Linked DNA regions of Homo sapiens: all the other regions are linked to region 1. Evidence: fine-mapped expression QTL. A gene starts in region 1. Each other region holds a variant in brackets. All regions are shown on one strand. Distances are from middle to middle.

Evidence for each region. PIP is the estimated chance that this variant, and not a neighbour inherited with it, causes the effect.
Region 2: its variant is fine-mapped to the expression of COPG2 in whole blood (INTERVAL, PIP above 0.99).
Region 3: its variant is fine-mapped to the expression of COPG2 in whole blood (INTERVAL, PIP above 0.99).
Region 4: its variant is fine-mapped to the expression of COPG2 in whole blood (TOPMed, PIP above 0.99).
Region 5: its variant is fine-mapped to the expression of COPG2 in whole blood (INTERVAL, PIP above 0.99).
Region 6: its variant is fine-mapped to the expression of COPG2 in whole blood (TOPMed, PIP above 0.99).
Region 7: its variant is fine-mapped to the expression of COPG2 in whole blood (TOPMed, PIP above 0.99).

The regions. Positions count from the first base shown.
Region 1 is chr7:130,667,126-130,671,204 of GRCh38, forward strand. COPG2 (coat protein complex I subunit gamma 2) reads right to left here and starts at 1,623. Exons shown (of 24, transcript NM_012133.6): 1 at 1,507-1,623; 2 at 357-409. The coding sequence starts at 1,543. It overlaps TSGA13 (testis specific 13), which reads right to left. Exons shown (of 8, transcript NM_052933.4): 8 at 1,518-2,058. The coding sequence ends at 1,889. RefSeq lists an enhancer at 826-935 and silencers at 1,206-1,795, 1,886-1,995.
Region 2 is chr7:130,547,548-130,551,614 of GRCh38, forward strand. It overlaps COPG2 (coat protein complex I subunit gamma 2), which reads right to left. Exons shown (of 24, transcript NM_012133.6): 16 at 3,694-3,797; 17 at 2,977-3,102; 18 at 1,767-1,829; 19 at 856-995; 20 at 127-298. Among named protein-coding and RNA genes, the nearest start is that of COPG2IT1, 6.1 kb to the left of the region's middle. The variant G/A (reference allele first, on the strand shown) is at 2,269.
Region 3 is chr7:130,351,901-130,355,900 of GRCh38, forward strand. The region is part of intron 5 of CPA5 (carboxypeptidase A5); the gene reads left to right. Among named protein-coding and RNA genes, the nearest start is that of CPA5, 9.1 kb to the left of the region's middle. RefSeq lists an enhancer at 348-994. The variant G/T (reference allele first, on the strand shown) is at 2,048.
Region 4 is chr7:130,501,793-130,505,871 of GRCh38, forward strand. It overlaps MEST (mesoderm specific transcript), which reads left to right. Exons shown (of 12, transcript NM_002402.4): 10 at 852-928; 11 at 2,141-2,204; 12 at 3,147-4,079. The coding sequence ends at 3,264. Among named protein-coding and RNA genes, the nearest start is that of MIR335, 7.7 kb to the left of the region's middle. RefSeq lists an enhancer at 2,259-3,458. The variant A/G (reference allele first, on the strand shown) is at 2,464.
Region 5 is chr7:130,718,167-130,722,245 of GRCh38, forward strand. No RefSeq gene overlaps it. Among named protein-coding and RNA genes, the nearest start is that of KLF14, 14 kb to the right of the region's middle. The variant CTT/C (reference allele first, on the strand shown) is at 2,124.
Region 6 is chr7:130,610,284-130,614,362 of GRCh38, forward strand. It overlaps COPG2 (coat protein complex I subunit gamma 2), which reads right to left. Exons shown (of 24, transcript NM_012133.6): 7 at 3,261-3,353; 8 at 1,869-1,955; 9 at 670-827. Among named protein-coding and RNA genes, the nearest start is that of COPG2, 56 kb to the right of the region's middle. The variant G/A (reference allele first, on the strand shown) is at 1,795.
Region 7 is chr7:130,732,597-130,736,675 of GRCh38, forward strand. It overlaps KLF14 (KLF transcription factor 14), which reads right to left and starts at 1,611. Exons shown (of 1, transcript NM_138693.4): 1 at 1-1,611. The coding sequence starts at 1,437. The coding sequence ends at 466. It overlaps LOC105375508 (a long non-coding RNA gene), which reads left to right and starts at 1,668. Exons shown (of 4, transcript XR_927978.3): 1 at 1,668-1,786. RefSeq lists an enhancer at 682-1,219 and silencers at 1,115-1,274, 1,345-1,424. The variant C/T (reference allele first, on the strand shown) is at 1,695.

The DNA.
Region 1 (4,079 bases):
TTGACTACTTCAACTTTATGGGCTATACCAGTTAAATAAGGATCACAATACTTATCTATATCATACTAATACAATGAGATTAATACAGATAACTGATTTCAATAACCTTGCACTAAACACCTGTTCTTACATTTAAAATTCCCAACCTGTGACAGTCTTCATGTCTTTGCATTTCTATAAGCTCCAAATTCTCCTGTGACAAGTAACCCCTCTTTCTTTTCCCTCAAATCTATATTCCCTAAACTCTGTTACGTTTCTTGTTTTGCATGTCGTGATCACAGCAGCCCAGGGATTCTCTGCCCACCACTCTAAAACAGAATAGAAAAGAAAGGGCACAAGATACTTCCCAGTCATACCTCCTGTAAAACAGCACTCTTCTCCAGATGCTGGAAAGGATTGGAGCCACTACCTATTTATAAAACAAAACAAAAAAATGTCCTGAACAGCTGTTCTACACAAACTTATATACTTTCCAGAGAAGGGTACTGAATGCTTGGGAAGTGAACACTTGGATGGCACAGTGATAATCATGGCTAATACGCATACGAACTGAATGAAATCATTTTGATCCCGGCTCTGTCACTGCCATACTCGAAGAGCTGAGACTTCTCTTTCGCAGCAACCCTCTCCAAAATGAGTGTCTTCTTTCCCTGCCCTCTTTTTCCATGAATGTTAAAAATGTGTCATTTCCACAACAACGAAGATTAATGAGATTGTAGTAGGGTGCTTTTGATTTCCTTAGGTAAGCAGTATTTTATGTGTTTCTAACACTTAAGGAGAGGCAGAAACGAAGTTTCCCAGAGAATCATGCAGGCGTAAAGGTGCAAGAGGCCATGGAGGTTGACTAACCCAACCCCCTCTCACACTGTGGGAGATGCTACCAAACACTGAGAATTTTTTTCTTTTTGAGGATGCTTGGCATCTTCCCCATTTGCTCTGGACCAAAGACGGGCATCAAGACGCAGGTCACTTCTGGACACCTGAGCATTCAACGAGCTGTGTCCCACGGGACAGTCTTGCCCCCGGGGACCTGGACAGAGCCGGTGACCCCAGGAAAACGATAAGGTACCAGGCACCTGAACGTTCCTCCACACACACCCTGTGCCGTCGACCCCAGCCCCGGGAACAGGGTGCTCCCACTAGGGGTCCGACCCTACCAGCACCCCTGGACGCGGAGACGCGCGCACGCCCTCGGCCCCCGCCGGAGGCCCGCGCGCAGGGGAGGAGGCGGCTCGGAGGGGCTGCGCCGCAAGAGGGGCGGGAACGGGGCGCGCGCGGGCGCCGGGGCGGGAGCGCGCGGCCCGAAGGGAGGCTCCGGCGCCCGGGGGAGGGGCTACGGGCAGGCCCCGGGCAGCCGCGAGGGGAGGGGAGGGGCCGGCTCCAGCTCCGGCCCCCTGGCACGGCGGCGCCCACGCCCCCAGCCCCGCCGGCCTGAAAGCAGGTGGCGGCGGGCGGGGGAAGGGGCGTCCCGCGGCTGAGGGTGGGCCTCGGAAGCCCCGCGCGTACCAGACTCCTCGTCCTTCTTGTCGAATTTTTTAATCATCTTGGACGACTTCCCAGCGCCCAGACCCACCGCAACCGTCCCAGGCGCCGCAGCCGGCGAGCGGAAGAGGCTGCAGGAAGGCCGGCCCCGCGCTCTCACGCCGGTTGGGCCGCCGCGCCTTCACTCGGGGCCAAGGCCCGCCCTCCCCGGCCGCCCTCGGCCCCCGGGACGCAGCCACGCCCCCTTCTCCTCTTGCGGCCCGCCGGAGACTTCGGCTCGACCCTCCCGGCTTGCGACCCGGGAGCCCACGCCCGCAGCAGCAGGAATGTGGTTTTATTTGGGTGGCGACTTCTGCGGACCCCTCAGTCTCAAGAGAGCGAGGCGGGAGGACTGAGGGGTCTGTGTTCACCCGATGACCGTGGCCTTTTTGATAATCCACTGCGGGGCCCTCCCGTTGCGGAAGGCGCTCTCCCCGGGCGCGGTTCTGGTGGGCATGTCTTCCAAGAGCGATGCGAGTGTCAGTGGTTCCCGAATCACTTTGGAAATTGGCCTTTCACTCGCTGACTTCTTGGAAGCTACGACAAAGCACAGGCACCCTGGTGAATGTGGCTTTTCAGAAGTACTCGAAGGATACTTAATGTGAGATGTAAAGGAGACGCACTTGGAGGGACCAGAGGCTGGTCTTTAGAGGGTAGATTTTGGACCGTGTAATACCATTCCCAACCTATTTTATAATTTTTGGATTCCTTCATTTCATCAAAACCCAGTGGAAAATTCATTGCCAGTTTAGAGTCTTCCTTGTTCAAGCCTATTTCTTTCAATGATTCCATCTGAAACCATATTGACACTTAAGAAACTCACTAAATTAACGTGCATTCATTCCTAACTCATGTTCCTCTTTTTCTCAGAGTGTATGCTGGCTTTCTGTTCTCTTGTCTAAGAGTGTAGCTAAGAAACTTTGTCTGCCTTTGGCTTCACTGGCATAACTTGTTTAGAAATGTAAATTGGGTCTATACTCAACAGGATCGTGCCCCTGCAAAATTAGAGAAATTCTAACCTAGATTACATTCTACATCCTAGAGAAATTCTTTCCCTGAAATACAGATTTAAGATGAACTGTTGATATCCTACATATGGTATCATTTAAGATTTAACTCCGACTTGACTAAATGTACTATTAACTACTATGTTTGCTTTATATGGCTTGTAAAGGTCAAGTCATACTTTGTAGGTGGAGTTTTCTTTGAAGGAAATAGAAGTCTGCACTCATTTATTCTGGGGGTGAAAATAAACAGGCTTTGGGGAAGGAAACATCCTCTTCCTCTTCCTTGGCCCAAGGGTATTGGGAACCTAGGCAGAGACAGTGTAGATAATAGGCCCAGAGGTTCTCAAGGTGGGTAATGCCCCGGAGACCTGCTGAGAAGTAGAAGGACCTGAGTTCAGATTTGGGGCTGACCCTAAGACTAGCCCCTTGTAAAGCAAGATCAATCATTCTCTGCTGTTCTTCAGCTTTTCTGTATATCTATGAAGTTTTGTTTAATACCACAGGTTGTTTTTAGCTGTGCAGTATTTACGGAGTTAAGAGCATCAGTAGGTGGAAATGGGATGGGATGTGGTGGCAGATAGGTATAGCAGGAGCAGAGAAGCCTGAAGAAGCCAGTTAAGGGATGGTATAATATGACCCCAGGCCTTCGGTATCAGGACTATTTGGACTGAGGATGGCTGGCAGACGGGTTGAGCAATCACTGCAATGGCTTTGTGGGACAGGCAAGGATACCTTAGGGAGTCTCAGGAATTGTTTGAGGAGAGAAACCCAGTAGGAGAAATGGACCTTATCTTAAAACCATGAGCTGGTGAAGTCTGAGGACCCACCAATTATATATATCTAATACACAAATGTGTACTCAGTGCCCTGAAATTCTTCATTGGGTCCAAACTGCCTACTGGATAAAACCCAAACCTTTATTTAAATAATATTTAAGGCATTGTGGTATTTTCGATTTCTTGTTATTGTTGTTTGTTTGTTTTTCAGACAGGGTCTCACTCTGTTACCCAGGCTGGAGTGCAATGGCATAATCACAGCTAACTGCAACCTTGAACTCCTAGGTTCAAGCAATCCTCCTTCCTCAAGCCCCCCAAGTAGCTCAGACTACAGGTGCATGCCGCCACACCCTGTTAAATTTTTTTAAATTATTTTTTGTAGAGACAGGATCTCACTATGTTGCCCAGGCTAGTGTCAAGCCCCTGGCCTCCAGCAATCCTCCTGCCCCAGCCTCCCAAACTGCTAGGATTACGGACACGCCCAGCCTGTCAAGGCCTTTTATGATCTGTTTCATCTCTTTCACATATTGAAAGTGATATTGTTGGTGCTTGGTAAGTGTCAGACACTTAGTAGGAACCCTTGAAATACTGTTAAATAAATGATAATATGTGAGGAGGATTCTCATTGTACCCTCTGCCATACAACCTTATTCCAAGCCCCTTCTACCCCATTCCCTACCCCAATCCCAGAGACTTTTGTACCTCTAAGACACACAGACTTATCCTTTGGCCCTTTTAGAGCAGTTTTTTCTTCAAAGTATAATATGCATACCAC
Region 2 (4,067 bases), 120 kb before region 1:
ACACAAACACTCATCATTAAATTCTAGAAAAGCATCACATTCTTAAACTGAGCATTTGAAGAGTTGAAGAGCTCACAAGGAAATGCATTCTGAATCACGTATCTCCTCCCTTCTGAGGGTTAGTACCTGCTGTAGGGTCATCATCAGGCAAACGAACAAGAGTGTAACATATTCCTGGTTGGTTATAAGGAAGGCTGGGGGCTGGGATACAAGACAGCACTTCATAGGAATCTGATGGCTCCATCTGCACTGTCACTTTTTCCAGCAGCTGGTCATTGAGAGTGTTGGTGCAGTCAAACTGAAAAGTCAGTAAATGGAAAAGCTGTGAAGGATAACAAGTTATCCTTCCTACTCATAACCCACTACTCAGCTCTGGAACCCACTATACCTTCTATCTCTACAGAGCAGGGTAGGTCTCCTCCTAAGATTCTTCTTTTGGCAACAGGGAGAGCCTTATTCTTGAGGTCTTTTGTTTATATTATTCATCAGTTTTTTCTCTTTCCTGAGACTGCTGTCTCAAACAAGATGGCAGAAGTCTGATGGCTGTCAAATCTAAGTTCTCAGAATAGCCCACTTAATCTACCCTGATGTTAAATGCTGATTTTAGAAAATTGGTTATACTTTATGTTGTCCAACTTCATCACACATTTCAGTTTTATGTCCTTTAGATTTTAACCATCAAAAGTTACCCATCACATGAAGGGATCTCTATAGCTCTGGTGTTAAGCAAGAAAACCAGAAATTCTGCCAAATTAATTCTCTATAATAGAAACTAGAATTATAGGTAAAGGATATTTGTCTCAAAGCATACCAGTTTATACTAAATCTCTACAGCAGCCAAGGGCATTATCTTACCTGGAACACGATGTGATTGGTAAACATGTGCTTGATACATCGAACAAAATATTCTGTCTCTGCTTCTGTAAGTTGAACAGGCTCAGAAGACTTGAACAAGGGTCCTATATTCAGAAACTCAGGAATGGCAGCCAATTGTTCTATCAAGAAAAAAGAACGTAGGCTATGAAGAAGACAGGGAAAGACTTCAGTCTGGATGCTTAAAAAATGCTTTAGTTGGCCAGGAGCAGTGGCTCACGCCTGTAATCCCAGCACTTTGGGAGGCCGAGGCAGGCGGATCACGAGGTCAGGAGATCGAGACCATCCTGGCTAAGACCATCCTGGCTAACATGGTGAAACCCCGTCTCTACTAAAAATACAAAAAAATTAGTCAGGCGTGGTGGCAGGCGCCTGTAGTCCCAGCTACTCGGGAGGCTGAGGCAGGAGAATGGCGTGAACCTAGGAGGCAGAGCTTGCAGCGAGCCGGTATTGTGCCACTGCACTCCAGCCTGGGTGACAGAGCGAGACTCTGTCTCAAAAAAAAAAAATGCTTTAGTTTCCATAGCCTTACTAATAGTTGAACATTCAACTAATATGTCCCCAAGTTTTAGTGAAGTCATCTTTCAAGTAAGTAAGCTTATATATTAATGAAAGCAAAAAGCAAAAAAAAAAAAAAAGAAAGTAAATACTTATTTTACAATGAGTTCCCTGTTAACCAACGAGATACAGAAAAGAAAAACATTCCCAATTAGCAATTACAAACTGGAAAGTTCATGGACTCCAGGTAGCCTCAGCAACTATACCCTATGGTGTTCAGCCACACGAAGATTTCCTATATTGAGAACCGATCAATTTGAGTAAGACTGGTAGACTTTTTATATTTACAATGCCTAGGGGAAAGATTATTACGTCTAACCATCAAATCATCATACCTTGGAAAATGTCTTGCCTGGAAGGAGCCAACTTCTCTGGCTTAGTAGCCACAAGTGTGATTTCTATAAAGACAGATATGAGCAAGTAAGTGAACTTCTCCCACTACTATCAAGCTAGCAATGCAGACAGAAAGAGAGGAGAGCAGACATTTCTAGCAGATATATAATGAGCTATTACTAGATCATACTTATAGGTTATCTATCACTTCTGGTGGGGGGACACTCAAATTAAAATGTATTTAGTGAACATATATTGTGGAATCATAAAGTAAGCCCTAAAAATATAGAGTTTGCTTTAAATGGACTGGAATGTACAAAAATTACTCAGAAAAGGAAAAACAATTTATTTTAAAAATCTTCTCATGATCAAAATAGGAAAAATTACTTATATCAACAGAAAAACTGAAAATGTTGAAAATAAGCATAAAATTGTTTCTTCCCAGTTTTGTGTTCTAACCACTAAACATTTATGACTTCTTTTGTTTTTGTTTTTAAGTTTTAA[G/A]ATTAGATATTCTTTGGGAATATTTTTTATGATTGTCGCCCATAAATTCTTTTAAGACGAACCTCCAATAACAAAATCAATTAACTTAGAGATTATCAACTTCAGAAAATAAAAATAGGAGGCGACAGCACTATTACTGCTCTGAGATGCACAGTGGCAACTGACTTCAGATACTGTAATGCTTTGCATTAAAAAAAACCCTTCATTTTGGAGTGCATTTCATCTTACTGCTTTTATGTAAAAACCAGGAGTTTTTTTTAAACTCTAATAAAAATATGTCTTAAATCTAAAAGATTTAGAAGGGGTGACAATCGGCTGAGCACGGTGGCTCCCGCCTGTAATCCTAGCACTGTGGGAGGCCGAGGTGGGTGGATCACCTGAGGTCAGGAGTTCAAGACCAACCTGGCCAACATGGTGAAATCCAGTCTCTACTAAAAATAGAAAAATTAGCCAGGTGTGGTGGCGCATGCCTGTAATCCCAGCTACTCGGAAGGCTGAGGAAGGAGACTCGCTTGAACCCGGGAGGTAGAGGTTGCAGTGACTAGAGATCGCGCCACTGTGCTCCAGCCTGTGCGACGGGAGTGAGACTCTATCTCAAAAAAAAAAAAAAAAAAAAAGAGTGACAATTAAATGAGTATTAGAGAAAATATGCTAATATTTTTTAGTTTTGCAAAACTACTTATACACAGAAAAATGAATAGAGTGAACCTGCTTTCTGTTCAAAGACAGGAGCCATAGCAAGAGGAATTGATTTCATGTCAAACGGTTTTTCTGAAGGCTCCAACGTGTACTGGTGTAAGGCTTTTTCCATCCCTGGTACAGAGACCGTCAAACCTGTGAAACATAGAGAAATCTCAGCATTATAACCTCTTGCCAATCCTCGAATCCAAATAGGCCCAGGTTTGTAATATTTATCTAAGCTTTCTGAAGGAAGAGAAAAATATAACCAAAAGCTTTATAACCTAAATATAAAAATAAAGGATATTCTTGAAATTACCTTATAAACTTATAAACTGACTTATTTCATTCAAGGAAACATGGGAGCATAGCATACACATTTTCAACAAAATGTATGTACCTCCCAGAAAAGAAAGCAACTTAGCTATATGGGAACAATGATAGCATAAGAAAACGGGAAAAATGTAAACCCATCCAAGAGGGAGTTCAAGGAGAACCAGGAATAAGTGAGCAACGTTCCTAAAAAATGTAAGGGCCCAATCTATATTCTTATAGATTGCTGCATAGGAATTATCATTACCAAATTAGAAAATATCCTATAAACACAGGTTTCTCTAGAAATGGAAGTGCACTCAAAGACAAAAACCAAGCATTTGCCTAGTGAAGTTAGCTCATATGCAAATCATAAAATATGCTTCCAAGACACCATTTGAGGAACAAAAGTGTACATCCTTGGCTTTCACTGACCATTAAAGATATATGTGGCATTTAGTGCCATCTGCCTCTGCTGCAGCACATTCAGATAGAAGGTAGCTCTGTCTCGTACCTCGTCATCAGTATCCATCATACACCTGTCCAGGGGAAACAGAATAGTCATGTCACAGTACCCCAAAGACTTCCAATAGCTCTACTACCAAATCTAAAGGACACAGCTCAGGTCGTCATCTGATACTACCTTTAAAAAAGTGCTCAACAATAGCCAACAGTGGCTCCTAAAGTCTTCACAAATCTTGGGTACTGCTCTGAATTACTAAAGAAATACTGCTACTGTGAATCACAAGCACTACATAAGTAGGCATTAAAATAACGAGGAGCACAAGAACATGAAATAGCAGTCTGGA
Region 3 (4,000 bases), 320 kb before region 1:
TTCAGGACAGGCACAACCTTATTCACATGTGGGTCTTTGTTCCTCTGGCCCCCTCCCCTCAGCCAAGGTTCAGCTCCACGCTCCGTGTCAATCTTCCTACCCCAGTACCTACCATAGGACCTGCTGCTTCGTTGAGGCTTGATAAATGTCAGTGGAACTAATAGACATTCATTAGGAGGAGGAAAGGAAAGAGGAGTGGTCGTGTTTGGTGGCTAGGACCAGGCTGGAAAACCTCGATGCTGGTTTTTACTTTGGCCAGAGGCAGGGGAGATTTTGGAATCTCTCCCTCCCTCTGCCCTGTGATCAGAGGGATGCTTGAGAAACATGAGGCAGGGCCATTCATTCCACTCCCAGACACAGAGAGCCCTACTGTGTGCTGTGCATCGGGCAAGGGGCTGGAAACACAGAGATAAAAAACTTGGCCCTGTATCCAGGACAGCTGGAGGGTCGCGGGGGCCGGGGATGGAGGGGGGTAAATCGGTGGTTACAATGGAGTGGATGAGCGACTGATGGAGTGAGGGCGGTTGCTATGGGAGCGCATACAAGAGGCACTGCACGCCGTGCTTCTGAGAAGGCGGTAATTACGGTGCGCTGAAGAGCAGGTGAGGGGGGGCTGGCCAGAGGAAGGGGGGCCCCCACCCCGATTGGTGATGAAGCCAGACCCCATCACAAAGAGTGCCCTCCACCATGTGACGAGGTCAGGATTTTATCCTGACAACTAGGGGGGAGTCATGGGAGGTGCTTTCACATGATCAGATTTGCATTTCAGAAACACCACCCTGACAGTGACAGTGTTGAGTTGGGGACAGGACCAGGGAGAGACTGACAGGCAGGAGGGTGGTGAGGAAATTGCAGTGGGCCAGGCAAGAAATTATCTGATTCCGAGCGAGCTCTATTTGCATTTAATTTTTCTTCACCTCGTTCTTTTCAGCCCTTTGGTTTTTTTTTTTATTTTTTCCCTAGGATGAGTCACCATGGAAAAACTTCACTTGAGCAATCAGCTCTGTGGCTTTTAATGGCTTTTTTTCTGATTACAAAATTAATAAATATTCATGTTAGATAATTTGGAAAATAGTGGAAAGCACAAGGAGAAAACAAAAATCACCCATACTCTGACCATCTAGAGCAGAATACAATTGAGTGTAAATACTGCGTTGCCAATTTCCCTCGCCCTAGTGGATCACTCTCATCACCATGCAAATACAGTTATTTCTCCCATTTAAAAAAACCCTCTCTTGATCCCTTCCCTCTCCCCTCCAGCCATCACCCCATTTTTATGCTTCCCCATAGACTGAAACTCCTGAAAATACTGACTCTCCCTGTCATCTCCATCCCTGTCCGCCAGCAGGCTGCCCACCCCCTCACTTCACCAAAGCTTCCCTCGACAATGTCACACGCAACTTCCAGATCCAACCCGATGGCCGACTCTCAATGTTCCTCTTCCAACAGCACAACTGGTCACTCTCTCCTTCCTGGAGCCTGTCTCTTCCCCTGGCATCCAGGACTTCTGTGTTCTGTCTCCAGCCAGCACCTCCTCTCCTGGATCCAACCGCCTACTCAGTGTTTCCACCTGGGGGTGCAATGGGCATCTCCAACTTTCCAGGTCCAGACCAAGCTCCCCTGGCCCTTCATCGGTGCCTCCACAGCCCTCTTTATCTCAGGAAATGGCAACACCATCCTTCCAGTCACTCAGACCAGAAGCTGGGAGCCATTCTTGACCCCTTCCTCAAACTCCCCATCAACAACAGATTTATCGCTGCCTTCAGAATGGATCTTAGCACATCCCACACCACCCCCGAGGGCCCATGCGCCATCTCGTCCCTCACCTGGGTTCTTCCAGTTGCTTTCTAACTGCTCTCCCCCATTCTCCACCTTGATTCCTTATTACCTAATCTCAAAACAGCAGCCAGAAGAGTCCTTTAAAACTATTGCAAATTCAAGCATGTTGTTCCTCTGCTTAAAACCCAACTAATTTGGAGTAGAAGCCAAAGCCCTTGCAATGGTCATAAGGCTTTTCATTTTATTGTATTTATTTATTTTGAGACAA[G/T]ATCTCACTCTGTTGTCTAGGCTTAAGTGCAGTGGCACGATCATGGCTCACTGCAGCCTCGAACTCCCAGGCTCACTCCATCCTCTCGCCTCAGCCTTCTAAGTACAGGCCCTGGGACTACAGGCCCATGTCACCATACCCAGCTAATTTTTGTATTTTTTGTAGAGATGGGGTCTGATTATGTTGCCCAGGCTGCTCTTGAACTCCTGGGCTCAGGCAACCCGCCAACCTCGAGCTCCCAAAGTGCTGAAATTACAGGTGTGAGCCACCACGCCAGACTGCTCATCTTATTTTAAATTGTACCCTTCTTCCCCACTTCTCCAACTTCCTCTTTCTTTCCCATTTCACTCTTGTTGACATTTACCTTTTTCTCATTGCTTATATAATTTAATTCTTTACTTCTTTAAATTATTATCTTGCTAGCTGAAGAGTACAGTTTTTATTTGTTTATTTGTTTTCTTTTTGAGACAGGGTCTCACTCCCTCACCCAGGCTGGAGTACAGTGGCATGATCTCGGCTCACTGCAGCCTCCACCTCCCAGGCTCAAGCAATTCTCATGCCTCAGCCTCCCGAGTAGCTTGGATTACAGGCACACACCACCACCCCTGGCCAATTTTTGTATTATTATTATTAATTTTTTTTTTAAAGTAGAGACAGGGTTTCACCATGTTGGCCAGGCTGGTCCCAAACTCCTGGCCTCAAGTGATCCACCTGCCTCAGCCTCCCAAAGTGCAGGGATCATAGGCGTGAACCACGAGAGGTTTTTTTGTTTGTTTGTTTTTGTTTTTTAAGATGGGGTTTTGTTATATTGCCCAGGGTGGAGTAAAGTGGCTATTCACAGGCACAGTCATAGCGTACTGCAGCCTTGAACGCCTGGGCTCAAGAGATCCTCCTGCCTCAGCCTCCCGAATGGCTGGGACTGCAGGCGTGCACCACCATGCCTGGCTTGAATAGCAGAGTTTTAAAGGTAGAAATGCTGTTGGCTGGTCTGTGGGTGAGTGGCAGCTCCAGAGAGGAGAAGAAGACAACAGGAAAGATTGCAGGAGAAGCCAGGGAAGACAGCAGCAGTGATGGGCAAGACCCTAAGAGAGATGGAGGCTGCCTGCATCATGGGGGTAGGGACAGAAGAAGAGGACCCAGGCCCCTCTGTTGGGCCCCATGAAAGTCAGGTGCTGACTGACTCCCCCAGATGACCATTAATGGGGGCTTTCTGCCCTCCAAGTCCTACAGAAGCTATCCTACCTCTGGAGAAACCCAGACTTCCTGGTCATGCCTTGTAATGCTCCATCACAGAGCCCTGGAGTCACCCCAAAGTTATTATCACCCTCCTTATCATTGTCACACTCCTCCTCATCATCATAGCTAACATTCACTAGCATTTACTACATGCCTGGCAAAAGTCTAAGCATTTAGCATGTATTAACCCTTCTAATCCTCATGAGAACATTGGTGTGTGTGTGTGTGTGTGTGTGTTTGTGTGATGGAGTCTTGCTCTGTCGCCCAGGCTGGAGTGCAGTGGCACAATCGCCCCTAACTGCAACCTCCGCCTCCTGGGTTCAAGCAATTCTCCTGCCTCAGTTTCCCAAGTAGCTGGGCTTACAGGCGCGCGCCACCACGCCTGGCTGATTTTTGTATTTTTAGTAGAGACAGGGTTTTGCCATGTTGGCCAGGCCAGTCTTGAACTCCGGAGGCCTCAAGTGATCCATCTGCCTTGGCATCCCAAAGTGCTGGGATTACAGGTGTCAGCCACTGCGCCTGGCTCTCATGAGAACATTTTAAAGTATGTGATAAAGTATGTGATAACATGACCTCCATTTTACAATGGGGAAACTGAGGCACAGAGATGTTAGTAATTTGATGGAGTTGGTGGCAGGATCAGGGTTTAACCTGAGCTCCCGCACCCTCAGACTCCACTCTCAAGGCATCTGTCCCCTCAGTGGTCATCACTGTTGT
Region 4 (4,079 bases), 170 kb before region 1:
GTCAGGAGTTTAGAGACCAGCCTGGCCAACATGATGAAACCCCGTGTCTACTAAAAATACAAAAATTAGCCAGTAATTCCAGCTACTCAGGAGGCTGAGGCACAAGAATTGCTTGAGCCCAGGAAGCGGAGGTTGCAGTGAACTGAGATCATGCCACTGCACTTCAGCCTGGGCACAGAGTGAGACTCCGTCTCAAAAAAAAAAAAAGAAAAAAAAAAAGAAGTAGATGTCAACACAGAAGATCATGTGTTACAATCCTCTTATTTTAAAAATGAGGAGGCTAGCCAGGTCCTTTGGCACATGCCTGTACTCCCAGCTACTTGGGAGGCTGGGGTGGGAGGATCTCTTGAGGTCAGAAGTTATAGCTGTAGTGAGCTATGATTGCACCTGTGACTAGCCACTGCACTCCAGCCTAGGTAACATAGGGAGACCCTGTCTTTTAAAAAACAAACCAACAAATGAGGAAACCGAGTTGAAAGATCTGTGTTATATGTTTGAGTCAGAGAGGTAGGTAGTGGTGGAGCCTAAATTGGAACCTCAGACCTGGGCTTTTTAGTTACATAAAATCCAAACCAACTGTCAGCCTTCCTAGATCTCATTCCCTGCTTAATAAATACACAAACCCACTAATTCTTATATTGATAGTAGGCATAATCACTACTAGAGCTACATGGTGGTTAACTCTAGAGGTTAACAGAAATGGATAAATTAAGTGGGACATTTCCAGGAATGCTAAACTGCTTCTGGATTAAGAAATTGTATCTTGTGTTCCTTGTGGCTCGTTATGCCCTTGAATCCCTGTAACAGTAAAGGTTTCTTGTTCTGCACATGCTGACTTACCTGTCCTACAGTCTCTTACAGTACATCAATCAGAGGAAGAAGTTCAGAAGGCGCTGGGTGGGAGCTCTTGCCTCTGTAACTATCCCCAGTGAGTATTTTTGTATTATTGATAGGAAACTGAAGGACTATAGGGTTAAAGTAATCGCAACTCCTTTATACAATTAGGGTTACCAGATTTAGCAAATAAAAATATAAGATACCCAGTTAAATTTGAATTTTAGATAAACAACAAATGCTTTTTTAGTATTTAAGTATATGTTGTACAATATTTGGGACCTACTTACACCAAAAAAAAATCATTTTTCACCTGAAATTCAAATTTTCTGGGTATCCTTTATTTTACTGGCAACTGTACTCATGACATCTGGAACAGTGATGTGTGTGTGTAGAGTGAAGTATATAAAAAGCTGAGACATTACTGTAAAGGTAGTTGGTATTACTGATTTCTGTGGTGTGCATTGTCAGTGACTGCCACATTACATGCTGAATTGCTCGGACAGAAGGCTGTTTGGATTACTAATCAAGAGGCTATAGGTGGTTTGTGCTTATTTGTCTTTTCATTCTTACAGATTTAAAAAAAAATTATGGTGTTTCACACATAGTGATTAGTGCTCAGGAAATTATTGGTTGATTTCAAATGTCAAGGGTCTGTTATAACTGAAGAGAGACTTAAAGAATGATAGTATCCTGGACTTAGAGGATGTTGAAAGTTGGGCATATCCCATTTGGTCCAGGGTGCAGGAGAGCTGGATGAGGGACCAAATGGTTGTCTGTAGGAGGAGATGTGTCCAATGAATGAACTGGTACGTGCCTAGCAGTTTTTTAGAGGTTACCTAATAAAACAAGCTAGGTTTTGTATCACACAAAAAATTATTTATAGAAAATATTTTCTTGGGCTGGGTGAGGATGCTCACGTCTGTAATCCTAGCTTTTTGGGAGGCTGAGGTGGGAGGACTGGTTGAGCCCAGGAGTTTGGCACCACTCTGGGCAACATAGTGAGAAAAATTTTTCTCTACAGATAATTTAAAAGTTAGCCAAGTGTGGTGTTGCACACCTGTATGTAGTCTCAGCTACTGAGGACACTGAGGTGGGAGGATCGCTTGGGCCAACGAGTTTGAGGTTACAGTGAGCTATGACTGCACCACTGCACTCCAGCCTGAGCAAGGGAGAGAGAGACCTTGCCTATTATAATAAAAAAAGGAAGAAGAAAACATTTCTTTTCGGAGAGGAGTTAATTTTAGGGTGGGAGTAGAACAGATGTGAGAGCTGTTAAGTATTTCATTCCTTTTCTCTTTTCTAGTTCATTTTATCTATGGGCCATTGGATCCTGTAAATCCCTATCCAGAGTTTTTGGAGCTGTACAGGTGAGTCTCCCCGAGAGAAGTCTATGTTTTGTTAGTATCTCATCCTGACAGTGGTAAACAGAATTGCCTGTTGAGGGCTATTGGCTCTAGCCATTGTCTTTAACCTCGCTGGCTGTTCATCCAGGAAACAATAAAAAGATTGAGTTGAGGAATCTTATTCTAACATAATTGTAGTATCAAGACATTCAGTTATACGTTCTCTTGATTTATACATAGTCTGTTTTCACTGTCATGACTGCTACATATTCCTTGGTGTACA[A/G]AAAGCTCTCATGTGAGTCAAAGGTTGAAAGTGGATATACCTACAAAGTGTTTGTTTGTTTTAGTCTGATTGTAAAGCCAATTCATTGGTTTAGGCTGAGCAGATGGCAAGGAGAGATTGAGAAGAGCTCATTGTGGAAAAGTGCCTTCTCATTGGTTGCTATTCTCTCTAGGTACTTACTTGGAAGGTATCAGAATATGAAATCTTGATTATGTCACATAAGAATGTTCCATACCTTCCTGTGGCCTACTGGATACAAGCTAGTAGTAAACAGCTTGCATATAATTTTAAATAAAATACCCCCTCTCTCATCTCCTCCTGGGATTAAGGGAAGATCCTTGGTTATCTCTGCTTGGGCAGTGAGTTGCTGTGTGATCCACTTGTTTGATGCTTCATCCTTCTCTAAGGAGCTGAAAGTCATCTTGCTTTGACAATTGTTGCAAAAGTGTTATATTTTCAAGTTGTTGTTTGTTGGATTATGAACATTTAAAAACTAGTTTGTATAAATGGAATTGGCAAGTTTATCTGCCTAAGATACAATTTCAGAGTAGAAGGTGAATAAGCTCTTTGGTGGCTCCTTCCAGTGTGGTGTGTCCACAGGGTCATTTACTGGGGCTTCCCACTGGCTTACATCCCTCCCGCTCCAGCCTCAAGTTCACCTGCGTGCTGTTCTCTTCCACTAGGAAAACGCTGCCGCGGTCCACAGTGTCGATTCTGGATGACCACATTAGCCACTATCCACAGCTAGAGGATCCCATGGGCTTCTTGAATGCATATATGGGCTTCATCAACTCCTTCTGAGCTGGAAAGAGTAGCTTCCCTGTATTACCTCCCCTACTCCCTTATGTGTTGTGTATTCCACTTAGGAAGAAATGCCCAAAAGAGGTCCTGGCCATCAAACATAATTCTCTCACAAAGTCCACTTTACTCAAATTGGTGAACAGTGTATAGGAAGAAGCCAGCAGGAGCTCTGACTAAGGTTGACATAATAGTCCACCTCCCATTACTTTGATATCTGATCAAATGTATAGACTTGGCTTTGTTTTTTGTGCTATTAGGAAATTCTGATGAGCATTACTATTCACTGATGCAGAAAGACGTTCTTTTGCATAAAAGACTTTTTTTTAACACTTTGGACTTCTCTGAAATATTTAGAAGTGCTAATTTCTGGCCCACCCCCAACAGGAATTCTATAGTAAGGAGGAGGAGAAGGGGGGCTCCTTCCCTCTCCTCGAATGACGTTATGGGCACATGCCTTTTAAAAGTTCTTTAAGCAACACAGAGCTGAGTCCTCTTTGTCATACCTTTGGATTTAGTGTTTCATCAGCTGTTTTTAGTTATAAACATTTTGTTAAAATAGATATTGGTTTAAATGATACAGTATTTTAGGTATGATTTAAGACTATGATTTACCTATACATTATATATATTTTATAAAGATACTAAACCAGCATACCCTTACTCTGCCAGAGTAGTGAAGCTAATTAAACACATTTGGTTTCTGAATAAATTGAACTAAATCCAAACTATTTCCTAAAATCACAGGACATTAAGGACCAATAGCATCTGTGCCAGAGATGTACTGTTATTAGCTGGGAAGACCAATTCTAACAGCA
Region 5 (4,079 bases), 51 kb after region 1:
CTCTTTGTTGTGCTTCTTACCCTTTAGGCAACTATTACCTTGTAATAATATTTTGTTTTGTTACAGTGTAATAGTTAAACAACTGAGGTAGAAATTGTATGTTTCGATTGTAAGATTCAATTAGTGATTTACTTTAAGACTATCAGTGGGTCATTCCACCATATTTCTTTTCTTTTTTTTTTTTTTTTTTGAGACAAAGTCTCGCTCTCACCCAGGCTGGAGTGCAGTAAGTAGCATGATCTTGGCTCACAGCAACCTCCACCTCCCAGGTTCAAGAGATTCTCCTGCCTCAGCCTCCTAAGTAGCTGGGATTACAGGTGCGTGCTATGATACGCAGCTTAATTTTTATATTTTTAGTAGAGATGGGGTTTCATCATGTTGGCCAGGCTGGTCTCAAACTCTTGACCTCAATGATCCACCCGCCTCAGCCTCCCAAAGTTCTGGGATTACAGGCATGAGCCACCGTGTCTGTCTTCCCCCGTATTTCTTAAAAATTTTATCTCCTGGCTTACCTTTACTCTTGCCATTACTACCCCTGCCTTAAGCTTGGTGAATGTCTCATACACATAGAAGACCCTGACATCTCAATTCTTTTTTTTTTTTTTTTTGAGATGGAGTCTTGCTCTGTTGCCCAGGCTGGAGTGCAGTGGCACAATCTCGGCCCACTGCAACCTCCGCCTCCCAGGTTCAAGTGATTTTCCTGCCTCAGCCTCCTGAGTAGCCGGGATTACAGGTGCGTGCCACCATGCCCAGCTAATTTTTTGTATTTTTAGTACAGACGGGGTTTCACCATGTTAGCCAGGATGGTCTCAATCTCCTGACTTCACAATCCGCCCACCTCGGCCTCCCAAAGTGCTGGGATTACAGGCATGAGCCACCGCGCCTGACCAACCTCTCAATTCTTGACCTCCTCTCCCACAAGGATCTTCTCCACCTCACCTTAACTATTCACTTCCATGGCCATTGCTTAGATTTTATCATTATGTATAGGTGTGACCCCTGCATAATCTCAGTGCTATGATTCCCATTGTCTGATCACTTTCTCCTATCTTTCCAGTTTACTGTCTAACCCCAACAAACCTTTGGCATCCTATACTCAAAATACATACAATATTTATTTACAAAAATTACATCAGGTAATACAGAGGGCAAATATGTGCCAAAGACAAAAAGAACATTTTTAGAGCCATAAAAAGAACATTTTAAGCCATTTCCTGAAGCAATAAACTGGCTTCCATAAAAAACACACACACCATTCCATTTGTACCAATTTATTTTCCATTATTCTTCCCCACCTTGCTGTTCTCATTCCTCTCCATATCCAGTTTAAAGACCATGGTCTCTTATTGTAAGTACTCCCATTCACATAACTTTGATTCCCTTGCCCCCTCTCACTTTTTGGTCAAACTAAAACTTTGGGTAATTCAACTTCTCCACCCAATCTATGTCTAAACCCACACAGCTGAATGAGGCTGATAAGCGTGCACAGACACAGACTGACTAATCTCACATTAAATTCACAATTGCTAGCGTCAAGTGAATTATTAATGCTGCCTGGGAATCACACATAGTTCATTACTCTCCCCCTCTCCTAAATGACTCACACATTTTCCTTTCTCCTCAAACCCCCAATTAGTTCATGTCTCATTCACAAGCTCAGTTGATGACCTTATTTTCTAATTCACTGAGAAATATTACACAATCAAGAAAGAACTTCCACAGTCTCCCATCACTGCATCCACCCACTTACCTGTGTCTTTAATCTCATATTATGCCTCTCCGACTGCTTCACAGATGGAATGTCCATGCTCCTAGCTAAAATCAATCCCTCTGCTTGTGCATTAGATCCATTGCGCTTGCTGCCTTAAGGATATTGTTCCTGCAATTCTCCCCCTCTTTCTCTTGCATTAATAATTTTTACTCCCTCTTGGATCATTTTTATTAGCAAATAAACAGGCTGCTTTCCTTCCCATCTTAAAAAAAAAGACAGAGTAAAAGCAATCATTTCTCTTGACCCTGTTTTTCCCTGCCAACTTCTACTCTATTTCTTTGCTCCCATTTGCAGGAAAATGTCTCAGAATAGTGCCCTGTACTCATGGTCTACAGTTTCTTTCCTCTTACAC[CTT/C]TTTTTTTTTTTTTTTTAACAGAGTTTTGCTCTTGTCGCTCAGGCTGAAGTGCAGTGGCACGATCTCAGCTCACTGCAACCTCCACCTCCTGGGTTCAAGCGATTCTCCTGCCTCAGCCTCCCGAGTAGCTGGGATTACAGGTGCCCGCCACCACACCCAACTTTGTATTTTTAGTAGAGAAGGGGTTTTACCACGTTGGCCAGACTGGTTTTGAATTCCTGACCTCAGGTAATTCGCCCTCCTGGCCTCCCAAAGTGCTGGGATTACAGGTGTGAGCCACCGCACCTGGTCCTCTAATGGTTTCTTAAACCCACTGCAGCTGGGGTTTTAGCTCCTGCCACTCCATCACAATTACTCTGCTCAAGGCTGCTGATGACTCCCTCCTGGCTAGAGCCAACAGTCAGATTCCCAGCCTTCCTCCTACTTGACATAGCATGAGCATTTCACAAAGTGGACTACTCCATTTTTGGGTGCACTTTCTTTACTAGGCTTCGAAGACACCACACTCTCGGCTTTCCTCCTACCTCACTGGTCATGCCTTCTTCGCCTCCTTGGCTGGTTCCTCCTGCTTCCCTTGGAGTGCCCCAGGGATCAGTCTTAGCCTTTTTTCCCTTCACCCTCTACACCCTCTTGTTGATCTCATTTGGACTTACAGCTTTAAATAACATCTATATGCTGATAACTCCCAAATTTTTCTCTCTAGCCCAGACTTCTTTCCAAAACACCAGATGTATCTATTTTACTGCCTCATCAAAATTTCCAAGGGATGTCTAATTTTTATTTCAAACTCGACAGTCCAAAACAGAATGCTTTTTCTTCCACTACAAATCTGCCCCACTTCTAGCCTTCCTCATCTTAGTTGATGGAAACTCCATCCTCCCAGCTGCTCAGGCAAAAGACTTTTGAGTCACTGTGACTCTTCTCTGTCTCTCACTCCCCATGGTCAATCCTTTAGGAAAATCTATTGGCTTTTCCTTTAAAATATATCAGAATCTACCATCACTGTGGTCCAAGCCACCATCATCTCTGATCTACATTAATGAAATTACCTCCTAACAGATCTCTCTGCTAAAACCCTCAAACATAGAAGTCAGAATGATCCTTTGAAACACAAGTTATATCATCCTATGTTTCTGTTCAAGATCCTCAATGGCTTTCTAGTTTACCCATAGGAAAAGTCATTACAGTGACATATAAGGCACACATGGTCTGGCACCTTCCCCTCCTTCTGACCATAACTCTGCTCCAGTCCTGCTAGTTCCTTTACTGTTTCTTGACCTCATCACCTAGGGTTGCTTCTTTAGCTGTGCCCTCTGCCTGGAACACTTTTCCTCCAGATATCTGCTGGCTAACTTCCTCAACTCCTTCAAGTCTTTGTTCACGTCTCATTTGCACAATGAAGCCTATTCAGATCACACTGTTTATGACCTCACCTTAACCCCTACTCTCACTTAGCACTGTTGATCCCACTCAGTCTGCTCTACTTTTCATTAATTCCATGTCTTCTGCTATCTAATGCTGATTTATTTTTTATTTTCTATATTCTTTCTGCTGGAATAGAAAATCATAAGGGCAGGGATCTTTATTTTATTCACTTCAATGTCCCAAGTGCCTACAACAGTGTCTGCCATATTTTAGTGCTCAATCAATCCTTGTGGAACTGTATTTTTTAGCCCATAAAAGCCTGGTGCTTTTTGTTGTTTTTGTTTTGTTTCATTAAAGATAAAAGCCATGACTACACATGACCCCAGAAGGAAAGCCTCTAGCTAGCACCGCCTCTGGATGCACTTCAGTCCAGTCCATTGCTGACCCCTGCTGGAACTCAGCGACCAAGTTGCTGTCTGTCCCTTGACTGGATGAGTGGACCTGGAACTCCTTGGGGACCGGCAGGGTGACAAGAGGCTGCTGATATCCTCTTTGCCACCTACTTGTTCCATACCCTGTTTGTAAGAG
Region 6 (4,079 bases), 57 kb before region 1:
TTTACAAATGATCTGAGGAACAGATCAGGTTTCCCCTTTCAGCAGGGCATTAGTAGTAGTGGCAGATTCTAGAGATCTTTCTCTGTGTTACACCTCAGTTTGCCAGGCCACATAAGAAATCTTTGTTTTAGAGCTCAGCCATAAGCCTTCAGGCTGGGGAAGGGGTCTTCTTTGCTCCCTAGATCCATGCCCAGCTTACTATACCTCAAAAGATTTCTCATTCCTGCCCTTCCCTAGCCTTCGAAAGACTGCTAAAGTATATTTGGTCACATCTTATGTGCCTCAGACTTGTGGAATGATCTTAGGCAAATCACTAAATGCAGTACTTCAACATTCTCTTTTATAAAAATAAAAGGGATAGGATAATTCTTAATGTCCCTGCCAACTTTCATATTTAATTATCTATATATCTTATGATCAATGCATATATTTTTTGTTCAATATCAGTTTGTTAATGTGCTATTAATAATTAAGTACATATACAAGAGCATACAGTAAGGTTAAAAAAAGTGTGACTTGAAATTCCATAATTTTTTTAAAAAATTGAAAAACATTGAACTCATCTGTAAAGTTAGCACTGCCCCAAAAAAAATTCAAAAAGGAAATAAACTCTAAGGTATATTAACTTCGCAAATGGAAAATAACCCAGGTTTAGGTGAAGACACTTACCCATCCTCAGTTTCTTTTAGTAAGCGACTGGCAATTCGGATCAGCATGCAGTAAGCAAACTGTGACTTGAGACCAGATTTAGTAAACTTATTCAACATCTTGGAAACAGCAAGTCGATCATTCTTTCTAAGGTGATACAGGACTCCCAATGCATGGTACTAAAGAACATGAAAAAGAAGGTAGCACATGGATTAGAAAGATGTCAAAATATTTACACAAAAATAGAATTACACGGAACTAGATTAAAGATTTCTTTAAAATACCCAGGTCACATGTACACAAATATTTTTTTCACACTGAACTAAACACAGGCAAGACTGAAAAGATTAAACGTTTCTAATTTACCCCTAGAAGCTGTCAATTCAGACTGGCAGGCATAAAGGAGGTGACATACAACCTGAAGATGGCTCTAGCAGGCTCAACACTGGCTCACACATCCTCAGTACACACGCTCTCGGGTCCAGGGCTTTACTGGTGCTATCTGTCTCTACGAGTGGCTTTACATCATCTGTGGCCATCTTAGTAATTAAAGGATTAATCTCCTAAAGCAGGCTACAAGAGTGTCATCATCTTGACACTTTGTATAAAAACACATGATCAGAGTCAGGAGAATGAGAGTGTTTCCCAAGGGAAAAATGACTACTCTGTTTCCTAATAACTGAATATGTTACCATAGAAGTTATAAACATCAAGAGGGCATAAACGCCCTCTCAAATAAAATGGGGTACTTTACACACAATTTCCAGTGAAGAATTTAATCTTATTCCTCTTAAGAATAACCTAATAAATATCAAAAGAGCTCTTTTTGACAAAATGGTTTCAAAGTTTCATAAAGTAAAAGCTGCTCCGTATGATTTTTATAATGCCTATAATCAAGGCCTCAGAACTTGGAATTATCTTTTTACACAAATTATTTTTCAAATAAAAGACTGCCACGAGCATCTCAATCTACTACTGAATATAACAATCTTTCCCAAATATTCCTACAAAGGGTCATCTAGCTTCTATGAAACACCTGAAGGGCAGTATTCAAATGGCAGTAATCATAATTAGTGAGATTCCTACTTCAGAATACGTACTAGTAGCTGCTTAATTTGCCTTTAGTTAATGTTTATCTAGGGAATC[G/A]ATACACTGCCCCTACAATACAGGTTTAAAGAATGCTGATCCTGAGACAAGCTAATGTGATTCAATGACAATACCTGGACCATAATATTATCACTTGATGCAGCTTCTTGGGCTTCATTGATCCAGCGCTTAACCACATCATAGCTTATCTTCATCATGTGCTAAATACAGAAAAAAAAAAATGAGAATAAATAATGCTTGGTCACTAGAAGCTTAGAAACATGAGTTAGTTTTCTTTGAAAATCACAGACATTTCCCAAGAGGAAGAAAACTATGTAGCTCTTATAAGTCTATTTTGTGTCTTTACTCCTGGAGCAACTGATAAACCAGAAGTATTTTCTCCCATACCTGTTACAAAGGTGAGTATATGTAAGCTGGGAGAGGTGTGTAAAAGGAAGTAATGAAAGAGGAAGAACAGGATAGGGATGGACAGTCAACAGAACGGTGCTTAAATAACGTTATCATAACAAGCTTTACTTCCAGGAAACTCCCCTGGAAGAAAGAGAGTACTAGTATATTCTCTGCTATAAAACTCAGCCAATTATATTCCAGAATCAGGAACTCTTGTATTTAGATGTCTTACACATTCACATATAGGTAACTGACGTTAATCAAATGCAATGTGATAGGTTTTAATGTATAAATTGTGTTCTGCTGAAAAACGGAAAGAAAAATGTATTACTAAAAAAAAGACCACTTCCTGGGAGGAAATTCAGAAGTGGGACAGGAAACTTTGGATTGAAGGATACACGTAGACAAAGGGCACCAGAAAAAGCAGAGGACAAAGAGACAAGTAGTAGAAGTCATAAAGGCAGGTCATAAAGAAGATTTTAAATGAAAGAAAAGGGTCCTAGGTTTCTTTCCTGTCCCATACCCCACACTTACCCCTCTTTTATTATGTGTACAACATAACTTTCAGATTTCCAAAACCTTTCAAACATACGAACATTTTATGTTTTTAATTGCTCAATGATCCTATAGATCAGCAATCTCCAACCTTTTTGGCACCAGGGATTGGTTTTATGGAAGACAATTTTCCCATGGACAGAGGGCAGAGGGATAGTTTTTGGATGAAACTGTTCCACCTCAGATCATTAGGCATTAGATTCTCATATGAGGCCGGCAACCTAGATCCCTGCATGCGCAGCTCACAATAGGGTTCGAGCTCCTATGAGAATCTCACACTGCTGCTGGTCTGGCAGGAGGCGGAGCTCAGGCAGCAATGCTCGCTTGCCTGCCACTCACCACCTGCTGTGCAGCCCAGTTCCTGACAGGTCACAGACCAGTACTGGTCTGAAGCCCTGGGGTGGGGACCCCTGCTCTAGATAAAACACACTTGGATAAAGTAATAGAGGTGTATACATATTTTTAACTGTTTCATTTGTGAGACAATCATAGTGATACTTTGTTTTCGCAACTCAAAACTGTACCATGCTTAAGAACTAGGAAGCTGCTTGTTCACTTACCAGGGAAGATACCAGTGCTGAACTGGATACACTGGAAACTTTATCCACAATGGCCTGCTTCATGTATCTTTCAATGGCTTGCAACATTGTTCCCTAATAACATTCAAAAAGAAAAAATTGTTAAGGAAAAACATGCTTATGCAAAATTACTCTTATGCTTCAAAATAATTTTCAAAAACCAATCTTATATTTGTTTCTGTGCAAATATTCAGAATGCACTAAAAGGATGATAATATAGTAATAATATCCCAAAGGGCAGAACCCAAACAACGAAGTTGAAGCTTTAAGAAAGAACATTTAAGATTATATATAAAGAAGAATAACTGTTCAACAATGAAATAAACTGTCTCAAAATGGAGAATCTCAGTTTGGAAGAAATACACAAGCAGAGGCTGAACCCATCAGGAAAGTCATAAAGAAATTCCTATATGGAGATGGAGCCTGCTTTTGAAGTTATGAAGATTCCTCTATGTGAAGGGCACATATTATATACAGATCCCAGAGAGTCCTAGAAATCAAACGTAATCCCTGATTATCTGAGATACATAAAGAATTAAATGTGTAGTGTACTACTATAGTGAGCCCTCAACATAAAATCCTCTGGAAATACAGTTCTTTTTAACTTTAACTGGGAAAAAGCACTGGGAAGGTGGTGGCAGATAAAGATGAGTAAAAAGACTGAGAGCAATATTCAGATGAAAAAAAGAGTTTTATTGCTAGCACTAGCATGGTCAAGTCTCACGCTGCTACCAATGTAATGCAAAAAATAAAAAACAATCACAACAGAACAACAGTGCACCAAAAAATATTAAAGCATTT
Region 7 (4,079 bases), 65 kb after region 1:
TCCAAAGGCCTCTCACCATCCCAGTCCTGGACATTTCCAAGACTGCCACCCCTGACACCCTCTCCAAGGTCCGCCCTGGTGGATGGGTGAGACACCAGAGTCCTTTGAGACTGGGAGCTCCTCAGGCATCTGAGAATTCCAGTTTCACATCCCTGGTTCCAGGGAGGGGAGAATCTTCAGTACTCTGGAGAGTACGGGAGTTCATCCCTTCTTATCAGTTCCTGGGGGCTGTCTTGAGGCAACCCCCACTTTTAGGATGATATACACGTTGCAAGAATTCCCGCTATTTTCCGGCCCCCAGTACCTCCCCAGAGTCCACATGTCTGCCTGGACCCACCCTCAGAGCAGAGGAACCAGTCTGTGCCTTGGTGTAATGACTCTGGGAAAGAAGGATGGGCAGAGAGAAAGCAGGGACAACGGCCTGGGGGATCATCCTTGAGGGTAAGACTGACAGCAATGACTGTCCTACAGGCAGGTGGTGAAGCTGGGCGCCGGGCCGGGACCGGAGCCGGAGGCGGAGCTTTCCACCTCGCTGGTGAGTGGCGGGTCGATGCGGGGAGTTCGACGACGTCCCCGGTACTCGATCATATCTGGATGATAGGTTGGGTGGCGGCGAGCATGCTTGGTCAGGTGGTCGCTCCGGGAGAACTGCTTGGGGCAGAGGGGGCAGGAGAAGCGCTTCTCGCCCGTGTGCGTCCTGTAGTGGCGGGCCAGCTCGTCGGAACGCGTAAACTTCTTGTCGCAGTCGAGCCAGTCGCAGGAGAAAGGGCGCTCACCCGTGTGGGTGCGCTGGTGGGACTTGAGGTGCGACGACTTGTAATAGGCTTTGGTGCAGCCCGGGAAGGGGCATTGGTGGCGCTTGGCAGCAGGTGTGACAGACCTCCTCCGGGGCGCCTGATCCGCGGCGGGGGCGGGGCCTGCCCCTAGGGCCCCTCCAGAGAACCCACCAGAGGCTGCTGGTGCGCCCGGGGCAGCAGGCGCGCTTGGGACGGCGGGCGCATCGGAGGAGCTCTCGGGAGCGCAGACCGCCGCGGCGCCGGAGGCGGGAGCCAGCTCGGAGCACGGGGTCTGGACGGAGCACGGGATCGGGTCGGAGAAGCCGGACGAGGCGCGTGGAGCTTCCCCCGAGTTCTCCCAGGAGCCCTCGCCAGAGCTGCCGCGCAAGTCCGCCCAGACGCTTGCAGCCAGCAGGTGGGGCGCGGCGCCGCCCGCGCCGGGGCTGGGGGCGGGGACCTGCGGGAGCTGGGGGACCGACGCGGGCCCCGGTGGCCCCGGACCCGGCAGAGCGGACTCCGGCGGCGCCGCACCCACCTCCGAGCCAGCGGCTCCACCCGCGCCCTCGGGGTCCGGCGGGCGGCGGTGAACCACGGCGCCCGCGGACATGGACACCAGGCACTCGGCGGCGAAGTAGTCCAGGCACGCCACGGCGGCCGACATGCTGGGACCGCCCGGCCGCCGGCGAGCGCCGTCCGAACGCGGCCGGCCGCGGGCGACGGAGTTCCCGGGAGCGTCCGTCCCGCAGCCTCGGAGCGAGAAGCAGGAGGCCGGGTGCTCGCCGCCTGCCGCCTGCTGCCGCCGCCGCCGCCGCAGCCGCCGCTGCCGCCGCCGCCCGCGCGGAGCCCGCCCCGCCTGACGCGCCCCTGACGCACCGGAGCCCGCGGGGGCGGCAGAGACCCGCCCCGGCCCGCAGGACA[C/T]CCCCTCGGAACGCGCGGCCCCCGGCTAAGTCATGTTTAACAGCCTCAGAAATTATCTTGTCTCCGCGTTCTTTCTTCTGCCGGCGAGCCAGGTAATGGTAACAGAGCGAAACTCCCCAGTCGGAACTTCTGGGTTGCAGCAGCCTCGCCCCCCCTCCCCGCAGCCCGCCGCCCGCTGGTCCGTCGCCAGCTGGGTGTCCCGCGGAGTCCCAGAAAGTTTTTTTTTTTTTTAAGGAAAAAAATTGCTAATACCTGACATGTCTTTCGGTTCATAATTGCGATTGTTAGCGAAGTGGTCTCGAATTCCATTTCACTCCCCGTTCGCCGCTCTCAGACTAAATTGCAAATATCCCCAAGTCTGTAGCAAAAAAAGTTTTCTCATTGAGCAGGTCAACTGTGAACCCGGGGCCGGGAGCAGTTCCCTAAATAGATCCGCTACGTAGCCATTAATTAATAGCATCTCGAACCAGAAACAGTTTTAACCTTGGAAAAGCAAAGAATCCTCTCCCGGTTGAAATTGAAACTTAAAATCCTTTGAGTAACGATTTAACTATTCAGCCAACGAAAGAAAAATGCATGTTTAAACTGCATTAACCTGTCACTGGCATCCAAACAAATTTAAACGCTGAGATATAAATTATAGTCTAGCGGCGAGATAAACACATTAAAATGGACTCCCACCATTTTAATAATAGAAAGTCACGTTTCCAATTAGGCATTATCTTGTAATTTGCTTTTGACGAAAGTTAAATGTAAGGAAATGCAGCACATGATATAGAATGCTCATATGGTGTTTTGTGATTGTGGAGGTTTGCCTTTTTTATAATCAAATGCATGTACGGTTTCTTTTACGTGTCTTCATTGCTCTCATTTTTTCCCTCGTTTTTCTTTTTAAAAATGTAAAACTACATAGAAAAACAAACAGGATAATTTCTAAAAATAGTCATATCTTAGTTTTTGATGTATACAAGCTTTTATATGAGTGAATTGTGTGCATTTTATTTGTAGTTCTTCAGTACTTTTTCTTTTGAAAATTAATACGTATGTATCAAGAATAACATACGTTCATGTATTTACTGCCTAGGGTAATCAAATGTGAAATTTTTGTTATAGTTGTTTCATGTTTTTATTTATATTAAACATTACAGATAGAGTTGAATGTCACTTTGTTTCCCTCCCCAGTTCCATTCACCTTTCTCCCTCTTCACTTTTCTAGGTAATTAGTATTATAAAGTGGCTATTTAATCTGCATTTGTTTTGATACCCGTATTACCTAATTATACATGTAAATATATGTATATCTCCATGCTTATTTATTAAAATTTTTAAGTAAATGGTTCACTAGTATACATATCATTTTGCAACTTCTTTCCCTCAATATGATTTTGACAGCTATCCAGGTTGACACCTATAGAATCTACTTTATTCATTTCAGCAGTTTTTAAATAATATTGTCAGTGTTATTATTTTTAAGGCGATTCCATTGCAAAACAGTTAATTTTTCTGAAGTTCCTCTAGACGATTAACTCTTCGTTAATCTACACATTAAAATCTATCAGATAGAATAATTTACTAGCTGTTTTAATTTTATTATTTAGAAAAAATGTGAAGATATTTAAAATGCAGAGAGAACATTACAAGCACCCATATACCTGTCTCATATAATGAATATGTTAACATTTTGTTATATCTCCCTCAGATCTATTAAGTATTCAACATTTCTGATAAAATTGAAGGTCCCCTTGTACTGCCCCCAATACCATTCTCCACCCTTTTCCCCAAAGGCAAACACTAACATGAATTTGGTATGTAACTTTCCAGTCTGGGTTTTACAATTTAACTGGATGTGAACCTATAAAATGCAGAATATTGGTTTATATGATTTTTTTAAATGTACAAACATGGTATTAGGCTGTGCATATTATTCTTGGACTTATTTTTTTCATTCATGGTATGTTTTTATTTTTTCTCTTCGTGTTGATAAATATAGATCCAATTCATTCATTTTAATTGCTATAGTGTGGATCCATGCATACAAATGTGTCCTGTTTATTCATTCCCCTATTGATGAATATTAAACTGCTGCCAATATTTTGGTACTACTTGTACATGTTTCCTTTGCACATATGTGAGAATTTCTCTATGTATCTACCTAGATGGGGAATTGCCGGGCTCCACACACATTTTCAGTTTTGCGAGAGACTGCCAAATGCTTCAATTTGCACACCCATCAGAAGTGTGTGACAGTTCACGTTTCCCTCACATGATCTTCAACACTTTCTAGATTAAGATTTTTATTATTCCTGCCAATTTGATTATTTTAAAAAACAGTATCTTGTTGTCTTATTTGAATTTCCCTCACTGCTAGCAAAGTTAAGCATTTTT